Linked DNA regions of Homo sapiens. The protein of the gene in region 1 purifies or fractionates together with the protein of each later gene. This does not show direct contact. Each region holds a gene or a part of one and is shown in the gene's direction. Other genes may lie near its edges.

Region 1 (7,573 bases):
TAAAATTCTTTTCTTGAGTTTTCCTCTGTGCTGGTACTATTTTATTTTTCAGAGAAGGTCTCGCTCTGTTGGCCAGGCTGGAATGCAGTGGTCCAATTATGACTCACTGTGGCCTCAACTTCCCAGGCTCAGGTGATTCTCCCACCTCAGCCTCCTGAGTAACTAGGACTACAGGCGTGTGCCACCACACCCGGCTATTTTTTTGCAGAGACCCAATTTCACTGTGTTGCCCAGGTTGGTCTAGCACTTGTGGGCTCAAGTGATCTGCCCACCTCAGCCTCCCAAAGTGGCAGGATTACAGGTGTGAGCCACTGTGCCTGGCCACTAGGTTTTTTTTTTTTTTTTTTTGAGATGGTGTTTCACTCTTGTTGCCCAGGTTGGAGTGCGGTGGCATGATCTCAGCTCACTGCAACCTCCGCCTCCCAGGTTCAAGTGATTCTCCTGCCTCAACCTCCCGAGTAGCTGGGATTACAGGTGCACACCACCAAACCTGGCTAATTTTTGTATATTTAGTAGAGACGGGGTTTCACCATGTTGGCCAGGCTGGTCTCAAACTGGGGGTTCCACGTTGTCATGGCTGGACATGTACCAAGCCAAGCTCTGTTCCAGAAATCCTTATCACTGCTGGTGGTGAAAATGTGCCCCCCATTCCTGTTGAGACCTTGGTTAAGAAGAAGATCCCCATCATCAGTAACGCCATGTTAGTAGGAGATAAACTGAAGTTTCTGAGCATGTTGCTGACGCTGAAGGTAACATGGGTTTGCTGTCATTGGGGGAAGTCTCTGCAGCCGGTCTTGGGTTCCCTGGCCCCACCCCAGGGTCAAGAGGATGCATCTGTGGGTTCAAGACCCACTTCTTGGTCTGTGGGCCTGGGGAGGGGTGCTGGTCAAGGAGCATGGGTGGTGACAGAGGTGTCTGGGGGCAGTGTGAGATGAATCAGATGAGCGGAGAACCTCTGGACAAGCTGAACTTCGAGGCCATCAACTTCTGTCGGGGTCTGGGCAGCCAGGCATCCACCGTGACTGAGATTGTGAAGCAGCAAGACCCCCTGGTCTACAAGGCCATCCAGCAAGGCATCAATGCTGTGAACCAGGAAGCCATGAACAATGCACAGAGGATTGAAAAGTGGGTCATCTTGGAGAAGGACTTTTCCATCTATGGTGGAGAGCTAGGTGAGTGGCCATGACATTTGGAGGCTGGTCCCTTGTTAGCATCTGGGACTGTGTGGGCTCTGAAGAGACAGGTCCTTTTCTGAAGGTCAGAGGGTCTATGAAACCAGCCAGGGACCAGGAGAGGGAGGCTGCCACCTTCAGCTAACTGGTCCCCAGCTCCTCATCTTGGAAATAAAATCCAACCTCCTTACTATAGCTCTATACAATCTCTCGCCTGCTGACCTTTCATTCACTCTGCACCAACTCTATGGGCTTTCTTGATGTTCCTGCAGCTCTCTGGGCTTTGTCCAACTATAGGGCCTTTGCACCTGCCAGTCTGCCTCCCTGGGAATACCCTTCCCCCTCAATTCCTTGCCTGGATGGCTTCTTCTCATTGTCCAGGTCTCACCCTACAGGCCTCTTCCCCCTCAGAGCAGCCTTGTTACAGGACCCCCAGGTTTGTATGCCCACTGCACAGTAATATACCAATACACTGAGACAGCAGGGGATGCAGCAAAGACAGAGTTTAATTATGGCCAGGCACAGTGGCTCACGCCTGTAATCCCAACACTTTGGGAGGCTGAGTTGGGCAGACTGCTTGAGCCCAGGAGTTTGAGACCAACCTGGGCAACATGGTGAAATCCTAACTCTACACAAAATACAAAAATTAGCTGGGTATGGTAGCGGTGCCCAGCTACTCAGGAGACTGAGAGGATCGCTTGAGCCCAGGGAGGTCAAGGCTGCAGTGAGCCACAATCATGCCAGTGCACTCCAGCCTAGGCAATGCAGTGAGACCCTGTCTCAAAAACAAAAAACAAACAAACAAAAATAAAAAAGGAAATTAAATTCCCTTGCAGGGAAGCCAACCGAGATGGAAGGAACCCTCAAATCTCTCTTTGAGGAATTCTGGGCTGGGGTTTTAAGGGGATCTTTGGGGGTGAAGGGCTGGAAAATTAGAGTCATTGATTGGTTGAGGTAAAGGGGATGAAATCATCGGATGTGGAAGCTGCATTCTTTGGTAAGTCAGCTCCCGTGGGGTCCTTCAGATCAGTGGGCATCAGTAGTTTCACTGGTATGCAGGACTTGAAAGGATATCTCAGATGGAAAACTTGACCTTTCACAATGCTTAATATGTTATCTGTAGAGCAGTTAAGGGGAACTATATCTTGTGATTGGGTTTTTTGTGTGTGTGTGATTCTGGGGCAATAGGCAAACAGCTAGCTATGAGGAAGGGGTTAGAGAGCAAACTGACCTAATGATGAATGTTGAGTGTGCTGTAAGTGTGGCTGATTTTAGTTTGTCCCCCTCCCTTCTTCTCTGATTAATATTATAAAGTTTTCAGGGATGGTTTCAGCCCTCCCTGACCATGCTGGCTAAAGTGGCTTGCCATCGTCCTTAATATTTCACCCAGTAGCTTGCTGCCACCCCCATTATACCACCCTGTCTTCTTTAAAGCATCAGAACATGAAATTAGTCTCTGTATGTTTTATTTTTGCCTCTCTTCCCCCATGAGGGAAGGGCTCACTCCAGAGTGGGGATACTGGATTCTACTAATGTACTTTCATTTGCGAGTTTGCTGTCAGCGCTCGGCTGTAATCTGACGGTGTGGATGGAAGAATCAGAGCAAGTATGTGGCAATGAACAACCTGGGTTCAAATCCTGTCCCCTCTACACAGGGAAGTGACTTGTCCCACTGAGTCTTGTTTTTTTTTTGTTTGTTTTGAGACAGAGTCTTGCTCTGTTACCCAGGTTGGAGTACGATGGCACAATCACAGCTTGCTGCTGCAGCCTTGAACTCCCAGGCTCAAGCGATCCTCCCACCTCAGCCTCCTGAGTAGCTGGGATGAGTGCGCGCCACCATGCGTGGCTATTTTCTTTCTTTCTTTCTTTCTTTTTTTTTTTTGAGACGGAGTTTTACTCTGTCGCCAGGCTGGAGTGCAGTGGCGCAATCTCGGCTCACTGCAACCTCCACTTCCCAGGTTCAAGCGATTTTCCTGCCTCAGCCTCCCGAGTAGCTGGGACTACAGGTGCGTGCCACCACGTCCAGCTAATTTTTTGTATTTTTAGTAGAGACAGGGTTTCACCATTTTGGCCAGGATGGTCTTGATCTCTTGACCTCGTGATCAACCCGCCTTGGCCTCCCAAAGTGCTGGGATTACAGGCGTGAGCCACCGTGCCTGGCCGCTATCCTCTTTTTGTTTTGTAGAGATGGTGTTTTGCCATGTTGTCCAGGCTGGTGGTCTTCTCATCTATAAGTTGAAAACACAGTCCTTGTGGGGTTGCTTGAGACACCCAGAGGGGCTTCAATGCCCCTGGTGACTCAGAGGCTTTCAATGAAAGTCCTGGGCTCAGGGAGCAGACAACTCCCAGTTTGAGACTTGATTCTGCCGTGCACTTGCTGGCTGACCTCAGAGGAACTGGTCCTCTCTATGCCCCAGTTTCCTCACCTGTAAAATGGGGATAGGGGTATGGTTTGAGATGATGATATCCCTCCTCCATTGGGTGCACAGTCCACATCAGGCACAGAATGCACCATGCTCTTCACCTTCCAGCTCACAGAATCCTCACCACAGCTGAAGGATCACATGGAAGTTTTATCATCCCCATACAGATGGCAAAAGTTACACACCCTGAAAGTCAATGGCACAGCCAGCCACCCAGCCTAGCCCCAGGCATGGGACTCTGTTGCCTGGTCATGCATGGGTGTGTGTAATTTTCTTTTATCTCCACAACTCAATTGATTTCTCCTTTCTCGATAGGTCCAATGATGAAACTTAAGAGACATTTTGTAGCCCAGAAATACAAAAAACAAATTGATCACATGTACCACTGACTGCTTTGATGGAGCTGCTCTCAGCTGTTCTGATGGTGAGATTCAGTTGCTTGGCTTTGCTGGGCTATGCATTCAGAGTCCAAGAGAGGGCTCCACTGTGTGGCAGGCAGATCTGTGACTGGAACTGCAGAAAACACACACATACACACATACATACACACACACACACACACACACACACACACACACACACACTCTTAGTTGCAGTGGATTCTGAGTAGCAGGCTTCAACTCATGCTGTCTCTACTCTACCAGGGTCATGGTAGGGTGTGTAAACTCCTTCAGCTGGCCACCAATGTTGTTAGCTGTGCTTCCTGCCTTTTCTATTTGTTTCTAGAAAGTAGGAGGCAATGAATCCCAAATGTCTCATTGGGTCTTATTTGGAGAAGGCCTTTGTCAGAAACTTTAGTGGAGAAAGTTCTACTTGCCAGGAACTCAAGGAATGAGGTGTGTTGGCCCATTACACAGATAATAAGGGATGGAGGCTTGAACTTCCACTATCCACCGTTTATCCTCTCTTTTCCCCAAGACATGTGCAGAGGGAGCCTCCATGACACCATGAATCACTGATAGTTATTGAGGTGTTTTTTTTTTTTTTCTTCACTAGATGCACAGTGCAGGCAGAAAGTAGAATGCATCTTCAATTGTCCTATAGGCTGCCTGTAACCTTTTCATGGGCAACTTGTTCTAATGCCACCAGCCAACCCATGTTTTAGTTTGCTGGGGCTACATTACAAAGTACCACAGACTGGAGGGCTTAAACAACATAAACTTATTGTCTCACAGATCTGGAGGCTAAAAGTGTGAGATTGAGAGGCTGGCTGGCTTGGTTCCTTCTGAGGGCTGTGAGGGGAGGATCCATTCCAGACTTCTCTCCTTGGCTTGCTGATGGCTGTCTTCTCTCTCTGTCTTCACATCATCTTCCCTCTGGGTGTCACTGTGTTCAAATTTCCCTTTTATAGGGACAGGTTAGTAAGATTAGGGCCCACCCTTATGACCTCGTTTTAACTTCTATAATGATCTAGTTTCCAAATAAGTTACACCCTGAAGTACTAAAGGTTAGGACTTCAACATGTGAATTGTGGAGGGATACAACTCAGCTTGTAACTCATCATATCCATTGTCCTTTGTTCAACGTTAACTGGTTTAACCCTTCCACACCTTCATTTGTTGATGTCTTGTGGGTGGGCCCAGCAGTTCAACGTACCACATTCATAATTCTTCATCTTTCACAAGATTTCCAATTTCACTTTCCAGTTGAATGAGAAACCATTGGACATTGATGTGGGAGTGAGAGATGGACCCTCTTACACCAGTGCTGTCCAATATGGCAGCCACTGGCCACTATGTGGTCTGTCCAAACCAAGATGTGCTGTAATACATAAAACACACTGGGCTTCAAAAGCACAGCACCAAAAAAAAAAAAAAAAAAAAAAAAATAGAATATACAATATCTCATCAGTATTTTAAAATTTTGATTACATGTTGAGATGATATTTTGGAATACCGGGTTACGTAAAATATTTATTATTAAAAGTAATTTTACCAGTTTTAAATTTTTATTTACTTTTTAGAGACAGGGTCTTGCTCTGTTGCTCAGGCTAGAGTGCAGTGGTGCATTCATACCTAATGTTTTAAATGTTTTTGTAGAGATGAGGTATTTCTATGTTGCCCAGGTTGGTCTCAAACTCCTGGCCTCAAGCGATCCTCCTGCTTCAGCTTCACAAAGTGCTGTGATTACAAGTGTGAGCCACTGTGCCTGGCCAAGTTCCTTTTTTAAAAATGTAGCTGCTATACATTGTTAAATTGCATAGGTGGCTCCAGTAATGTTTCTTGTGGATAGTGCCACTCTAAAGTTCATTGTGGGGAGATTTTGGGTGACAGCCAATTTATAAATGGATCGATTCACTCGGGAATATTTTCATCATATGGTGACTGTGGGATCTTGGAGACTGAATGCACATATTACGAGAATCCCCATGTGATAACTTGTGTTTCTCCTCTTTGCAGCCTTCAGCAGGAAGACCTCATTGCAATAAGTGAAATGCTGCTCTAGGTAGAAGCTCTCCCTGCTGTTTTTAAGAAGCCACATTCCTCATTGGTCAGTTTCTTGATTGTTCGTCTGTTGGAGAGGTGCTCCCTAGAAGAACCTGCCATACGTTTCAAAGCAATAAAATCACTGTATATCTTTCTAAGGACCTTCAAGTCATGACTCCAGGGAAGCCTATTGGGAAGTCTACTAAAAACTGCCTGATTTACAAGAAAGACCTGAACTTGTGGGCTCCCATTTGATTTTTTTCTCCTCAGGGGACTCAGACATTAGAAAGAAAAAGCCTCACAGATTTGAAGAACTGGACCCCCAAATCAACTCACCTGCCTGGAAGCAACTGGGAAACCCTTCCAATAAGTCCTGATAATAAAGCACTTCAGGGTCCCATGTCTTGATTTTTGGCTTGATAGAAATACTTTGTCCTTTATTTAGTGTGATGGGGAGGGCTTGGACTCTGAAATCAGTTCTGGGTTCAAATTGTGACCAGCTGTGATTTCAACTGTCTGAGGCTCGGAGATTTTAAACCTGGAAAGTAGATCCCCATCTCGGAGGGTGGCCATGGAAGTTCATGGAGATGATGTACAGGGAATGCAGTATCTAACTCCAGAAAGTCCTCGGTTTGAGTTAATGGTTATCATCAACACAGTCACTCTTGGTTAACTCAAGAGTCAAGGTATGACTCTTGACTAATTCCGTCATTAGGGAGGAGTTTTCTGTTGTAGTAAGTTAAGTAAACTTAAAGAAGATAGTTTATTCCTCTCCCATCCAACAGTCATATTATAAGCAGACCAGAGCTGATAAAGCATATTCATAGTGTGTCTCCGAAATATTAGTAGGGAGAGTGGGAGAGGGAACATCTCCCAGCCTGGACAGAAACAGCATATCAGGAGCAACAAAACTCCCAGTGTCTCTTAAGCTTCTAGATACTCAGAGGCAGGCCAGAGACCCTTTTGAGTTCCATTTTTTAAATACACCAGAAATTTAAAATGACATTCTCCTTGCAAAAAAAAAAAATTAATGCAATGCCGATAAGGCTAATGTCATATTTGATTGCTGTACTAGGCCATTATTGCACTGTTATAAAGAAATACCTGAGATGGGGTCATTTATAAAGAAAAGAGGTTTAATTAATTAGCTCATGGTTCTACAGGCTTTATAGAAAGTATGGTGCTGGTGCCTGTTCAGCTTCTGGTGAAGCCTCAGGGAGCTCACAATCATAGCGGAGGGCAAAAGGGGAGCAGGCATGTCGCATGGCGAAAGCAGTTGCAAGCCAGAGGGAGTGCCACACATTTTTAAATGACCAGATCTTTTGAGAACACACTATCGTGAAGACAGCCCCAAGCCATGAGGGATCCGCCCCCCTGCCATGACCCAAACACCTCCACCAGGCCCCACCTCCAGCACAGGGGATTACAGTGCAACATGAGATTTGGGCAGGGACAAATATCCAAACCACATCAATGGCCCTCCTCAACTATTTGGCGGGCTTTTACTTTTTAATGAGTTAGTACAGTTGGTCCTCACTATCTGCCAATTCCA
Region 2 (7,000 bases), on another chromosome or scaffold:
TAAAGTGACAACTCAAAGGCTAAGTTTACCCTACAAGTGTTTGGCACCTAAAAAATTTGTGAGTGACTTGCCCATATTTAAAATCAGATTGCACATATAAAAATCTAGATTTCTGGCTTCTCTAAAAATCAGAGAGTCTTAGGCCCATAGTCTCACATCATCATAACTGGCAAAGCTGAGCACTAGTTGACCCCTTTACGGGGGGCATCACTCTCAAGTGCCCCTCAGTCTTCACCCCTGCTTCCCAGATCACCTCATTTACAATAACCCCCTGCCCTCATAGCTTTAATTCAGCCAGTCCTTTGTGTCAGTGGTTTCTTCTTACTTTTTTTCCTTCCTTCTTTGCTTCCTCTTTCCCTTCCTTCCTTCCTTCTTTTCCTGCTTTTTGGCTGAAGCTTCATTTCCACCTATAAAATTTTATAGAGGAATTTAGTCTACAAAGTAGATAAGAAAGGACAGCTGTGATAGAAGGATAGAAGCCCCCCCTCTTCCCCCTTTCAAGCTCATCTCCTGGCTTCCCTCATGGCCACCACAGGCAGACCTTTGTAGATGCCCTTGGCTCCACAGAGAACGAGCTGACATCACCGCTCCAAGATATCTTTTGCAACCAAATTTTGTATGAGAACTGCACTGCATAGTTGGAAGATGAATTTTCTGCCAGGGACCTGAAATACAGGAATTCTGTATTACAAATGAAAGGCAGGTCATGTGTTTCAGTAATCAAGGAAGCCTAAGTAAGGTTGACCTTGTGTATGGCAGTGTAAAGCCAACCCAGATATGTGCCTGAATAAAAGGCCACCCCACTCTCATTGCAAAGATTGGCTAACCTGCAAATCTCAGAATTTGTATGTACATATGCACATATATACACACGTATGCACACATCCTTTGAATAAAGCAAGACATAATACTTAAGTAGTCATCGTGGCCTAGAATGAGTTGGTTTTCTTAAGCATTCACCTGCTTCTTTTCATTAGGTCGATGACAGCATTCAGAGGAGACGGCAAAGTTATAAAATTATTTGCAAAGCACATAAAGGTAAGCAAGGGCCTGTGTGATCCCTAAAGGCCTCTCCCAGACCTCAGCTTTTTTCCTTTCAACCTCTTCTCCTAATCTCCTTAGCACATATTTTATTGAGTTCCTTCCTTATGTAACATTTAACAACTTTTCTGGTTTTTTAAATTCTATGCTTCTGCATACCTACCTCCCCAGTATGGCAGTCGCTACTGCCATGCTCTGTCCCTGTATAGAACCTGAGGCTTGACCCTTTGATTCCTTGAAGATTACCAGTTTTCTAGGGATATGCTCATCTCTGCCCTGGAAGTCGACCCTACACAAGGGTAGCTCCATTTGTATTTCACTTTCTTAACTTTGAGATAAAATGTTCTAAATTGGTGTAAGATAGCACTTTCTTAATGACTTCCTTTTCTTTCTTCTCTTTCATCTTGGAACAGGTCCAGGCGCAGGTAAAGTTGCTGGAGAAGCGTGTGGTGCACCTGGGTGTAGGAACTCCGGGGAGAATTAAAGAACTTGTTAAACAAGGTATGACAAGAGGGCAGTGATACTCTTGCCCAGGGCTGGGAGTTTGCCTTACCTACATGTGAGTCTCAGAAACTAAATTCAGGATATACAAAAACCAGACCTCTGTGTTAATTCAGGAATTGGAAACTCAGCCTTTAATCTCTGAAACCAACCAGCAAGTATAGCACAATAGGGAATGATAAGGACTGTGGCAAACTGAAGTACGTGTGCCCACCTAAACAGAGTCAAATTCCAGCTGCTATAAGCAGGTTAGTGGTTCCACATAGCCTTCATTCCACCAGTGTGCAGCCACTGCTTGAGTTGAGCAGTTCCCTGTCACTCCACTGAGTCTTGGGGAGACTCCCATTTTGAGGGCTGGTATATAAAACATACTAAAACAAAAAACGTAGTTTCCATGAATGTAATGCAGGCATTCCATAATAGTTCTTCCCAAATGTGTTTCTCTTTTAGTGCTTTACAGAAAGTATTCTAGACAACATCCACTGGTGGGTTTTTATAGTTTGCCAACTTTCTCAAAGCCAGTAGCCTAAGAACCTGCTAACCTGCCAATTATCTTATTACCTCTTCTACCTACCAGGCAGATTGAATGATTTCTTTTCAATACTTATTTCCAAATTACTTATGTATTATATAATAGAGCTTTTTTTTTAAATAACTGTCTGGAGCTATTCTCAGATTATTTTATATATCTAAAAGTAATGTGTTCATCAGTGTAGTAACTCATTATAGAGATGGTCATTTGCCAGGGAGCAACAAAAGCTAAAACTACTGTTGTTTCTCTCCAGATGAAAATCATCCAGGGTTAGTTGAACCCACTATATGCAGAGTTTTGTACAAATACCAACAACTAACAAATTTGGCTGCCCCTGACAAGGAAGGGAAACAACACTTTCGAGTTCCTACTTGTACGCAGCGCTACGCTTGACACCCTTACATATGTTACCTCATTTAGCACTCACAGCATCCTTACAGGCTAGCCTTTTTATTTTTTATGAGAGAGAACTGAAGCTCAGAGGGTTAAGTCACCCTCCCCAAGGTCTGTCAGTCTAGGCTCTCCTGGTTCTAGAGCCTTTTCCCCTCAAGGAGCTCCTGATCCAGCTGAAGAACTAAGTGTACATAGACTGAGATCGATAGCATGAGGCAGTAAATGCCAAGAGCCAAATGAGCACTTCTAAGTCCTACAAGAGTTGAAATGAGAAAGAGATAGTTATGCTGGCCTGAATCTGCAGGGCAGGGTCTTTAACTGATCTTTGAAGTGTGGGGAGGATTGAAATAGGCCGGGAGGGTCAGAGGAAGCATTCATGAATGGGAGAACAGCCCAGTGAGATTCTCAGAAAGCAGGCACATGCACATGGTATATCACAAGGAATTGATGAGGAGGTAAAACAATGTTGCAGTTAAGAGCCCCTGTGATGGACTCAGACCTCCAGATTCAAATCCCAGGTCTAGCAACTTACCAGCTCTGTGACCTTGGCAAGTTACTTAACCCTTCTCAGCCTGTTTCTTTGTGCGAACAACAGGGATAGTAATAGTAGCTACTTAGAGGTTTGTTATAAAAACAAAATGCCAATAAAGAGCTCAGCACAGTAAGTGTCACACCCTAAACACTTAACAAATATTAGTTATTTATTAAAGAGACCAACTTTCTTGCTTGGAAACTTCGTGGGCTCTAGTAGCAGCTGATGTAACTGGAAAGAAATTTGAGGAAAGTCCTTGAACAGTAAGCTGAGGAGTTTGGATTTTTGTCTTGTGGACATCCTATGGCATTTGAAAGTTAAGGAACAGATGAGAGGCACCAAGGCCTTCTATGAGACACAGATTTGGGAGTAATTGGCTGGGTATCAGAAGCTAAGGATGGACTCTCAGGTTGGTTCCTGCCTCCCTAACAGCTTTTAGCTAAAGATTCACCACCAGCCCCTCCTGGAATCCAGATTTTTTTGTGTGTCACCAGACTTCCCCAGCCCCCACCCCATGCAACAGGATTACTCTTCTCTGTATTTAAAAGAAAGAGAGGAAGAGAAAAAGCAAAGCTATCCAGACTATTGAAATCAGATCTCTACAGAGTTGTGAGACCTCAATATGAAGGCTTATTTCATATGGAAAAATCATTTAAAGGGCGATTTTTAAAAAAATATTAATGAAAATAATTTTTACATCTGATTCTAATTGGATGAATGGTTTCATATTCATTAACCACAGGTATTTGCCTACATACAAAGTGTTTAAAGAGAATAGTCCCAGCACCCTAAAAGTGAAAAATCTAACAGAGTGACACCAATAGCATATATGTAGCTGTTTATGACTTAATAAGATGTTTATACGTTTGATATATAAGGAGAGTTTTCAGACATTGAAAGATATCCCATGACATTGGGATGTATACAATTACAGGCAATTGTGTTGTTTTAATTTAGTAATGAAGGGGATTTTCTGACTATAGGAGCCTTTGAAAATGCAAAAATGTACAGAGAAGAAAACAAGTCACTTTAGAAGCAATCTCTTGTTAATAATGAATGTATTTCCTTTGAGTCTTTTTTCTATACAATTTGTATGTTTATTTTTATACAACAGAGATTGATTATACTGCATCTCATAACTTTATAACCTACCTTTTTCACTTGCTATATCTCATGAGGACTTACCTTCCTTGTCATGAAGCACGTTTAATTTTTCATTTGTATAGCTACACTATTTACAATATTCTATTGTAAATTTATTTTTTTGCAATTCTATTATGGTAGACTTTGGGTTGTTTCTAAATTGTTGCTATTATAAATAATGTGGCAATGATCATTTTTGCAAGTAGCTATGTTTATGTTTCTGATGCTTCACTGGGATATGTCATAGAAGGAAATTTATTTTATCAAATAAAAGCATTTTGGCTGGGCACCGTGGCTCATGCCTATAATCCCGGCACTTTGGGATGCTGAGATGGGCAGATCACTTGAGGTCAGGAATTTGAGATCAAATAAAAGCATTTTGAAGCTGTTATAATATTATGCTCAGTTTCATTCCAGAGAGGCTGTACCTATTTGCTTTCCTGAGAGCAGTTATATTAAGGGAAGACTGATGATCAACTCATTGTCTTTTCCAGTTCACTATTTTTATTTTAATTTTGCAGAGAGTTTTTAATAACAGGCATTTGAATTATAAAAAGCATGAACAAGTATTAGGGGCAAAGAGGAAAATATTTAAATACTACAGGGAAAAGCTGAGGGGAAGTGCCACAGGAGAGGAAGGCTGCAGGTACTGTTAACACAAGAGACGTGGAACAGCTTGGAGCAGAGGCAAGAACTGACTCTATGCCCAACTGTGAGACATCTGAGGACTACACATTCCCTGAGGTCCCCTTCAGCCCTCACAGTCCATAATTGTCTTCTAGACAAACAGGAAAGCAGAGAATGGAGTCATTAAGTGATTTACCAACCTCATCGAAGGATAGCTGAATAGAGCCTATTCATCTCAACTTCCTTTTCTGCCTAAAAGGAACCACCCAACCCTGTCCTCATCTTTCTCCCCACTCACCTCCTGAGAGCCCTGCAGACTCCATGGACTCAACTCCTTTGAAAGGCAACTACCCCAAACTGCGGGATTTAACTTAGCAAATCCCTGTCAGGAATGAGACTATAGCCTCTGGGGCTTCATGAAATGGATGCCTGGCCAGCGTGTGAGCATTTGAGGAGCTTAGCAAGAGCAGTTTCTCTGCTTTCCTCAGGAGGAGTGATGAGATGATAAGAAGAGCAAGTCTCAGAGTGCTGCATTTGTTTTCCATCAGGGAAGGGCAGCACTTAATGTGCGGAGATTAGTTACTGGGGGAGAGGACAACATATGAGACAAAAAGTAACCCGGAGAATAAAAAATCATTTTAATAAGCTTATGTCATGAGGTCTTTACTACAGCAACTCTCTTCCTGTCTCTTTCAGGTGGCCTTAATTTGAGCCCCTTAAAATTTCTGGTTTTTGACTGGAACTGGAGAGATCAGAAGTTGAGGAGAATGATGGACATTCCCGAGGTACCACGTAACCAGCAGTTGCCTTTAATCATTTTTTCTCTATTTGAACTTGGTTCAAACACAGTAATAAAGTCTTTGACATGAGGAGCCAGCACATGTTAGATTTTGAAATGATTTCTATCTTTTTTAACTCTGAGCTAACTATAATTATAGAGGCCACCTCATCCCCTTACACATAATTGTATCCTTTCCATGTGTTTCATGGGAATCAGCTCTGTTGCTCCTTAAATGACCAATGGCCTCTCCTCACTAGGGACCATTTTGAGAAACAAGAAGATCTGAAGGACCTGCACTTCTCCTGTGCCTTTCTTTGTAGACACACTCGTCTTTATCTTTCATTCTTATATGTGCACTTTTGGCTCGGGTTAGGGGAGCAGGGGTACAAACTTGCCTCTGCCAGCATCTCCACATGGATTCCCAAGAACCCACTTACTTAATTTAGAAAGATATTTTGGTTCATGGGGTGGGGAAATTTTTTGATGTCTCAGTTGATCAGAATTGAATGACCGAATGCATTTATGGGCACAGTATTAGCTCATTATATATTTTTAAAAACAATCCATTATCATCATAATGTGAAAAAATTACTTTGCCACCTACCACGCTATTATGGGGCTAATTTTTCAATCTAGCCTGATGCTTCACAGTAGCTGTTAGGAAAAAAAATGATTACCAGTCACTAACCAAGAACAAATCATGGCAGTAACTATCAAAGAGGCTTGGAAATACTCTTCCAAACATGCTGAATGAATTAATTTATCACATAAAGCTATATCTCCAGATTGACCAAACCTGATTATAATTGATCAGTGAGTTATTTCAGACATCAGTTCAGGTTAAAAAACAATTTGCTCAGTTACACACACGCACATGCACACACACATACACAGTCGTGCATTTTGTCCCCTGACTTGACTGGTTTCTTAAAACTGGTTTAACAAATTTGATATCAGGCATGAGGCCATAGTTGATTATTTCAGTTATAATATTAAATTTGACTAATCTACTAAGTTTCTAATTCTAATAATGAGAAATGTCCAAAAACATCTTGTCACCCATAGTTATTTTTATTCTGTTGCTGTCATTCTCAGCAGTTATCCTAAGGCAATAAAATCCTATACTGAACTATTGTATATAATCTTGTTTACAGAAAGCACACTGTGGAGTCCTTGAAACACCTTTGTATAGCATTTTATTTTGAATGGCTGCAAACAAAAGGGCACTTTAATGAAACTAATGTTTTATATAGTACCTCCTCCTTCATTTATATAAATATTTTAATTCTGCCAGGCATGGCAGTGCACACCTGTAATCCTAGTGCTTTGGGAGGCCAAGGTGGGAGGATTACTTGAAGCCAGGAGTTCGAGACCCGCCTGGACAACAAAGCAAGACCCTGTCTCTACAAAACAATAATAATAATAGGCCAGGCACAGTGACTCACACCAG

What was found. The genes of interacting proteins can lie anywhere in the genome.
Region 2: the proteins of ACSBG2 (region 1) and CMSS1 purify together in Homo sapiens (affinity purification with mass spectrometry; 2 studies listed by BioGRID and IntAct, with this or other methods). This does not show direct contact.

What each region holds. Positions count from the first base shown.
Region 1 is NC_000019.10:6,186,674-6,194,246, forward strand, and holds the end of ACSBG2 (long-chain-fatty-acid--CoA ligase ACSBG2), read left to right. Parts: intron 1-609; coding exon 610-749; intron 750-925; coding exon 926-1,172; intron 1,173-3,910; coding exon 3,911-3,984; 3' UTR 3,985-4,019; intron 4,020-5,994; coding exon of another isoform or gene 5,995-6,023; 3' UTR 6,024-6,418; downstream 6,419-7,573. UniProt on the Homo sapiens protein: Catalyzes the conversion of fatty acids such as long chain and very long-chain fatty acids to their active form acyl-CoAs for both synthesis of cellular lipids, and degradation via beta-oxidation.
Region 2 is NC_000003.12:100,170,862-100,177,861, forward strand, and holds part of CMSS1 (protein CMSS1), read left to right. Parts: intron 1-977; coding exon 978-1,038; intron 1,039-1,454; coding exon 1,455-1,542; intron 1,543-5,465; coding exon 5,466-5,554; intron 5,555-7,000.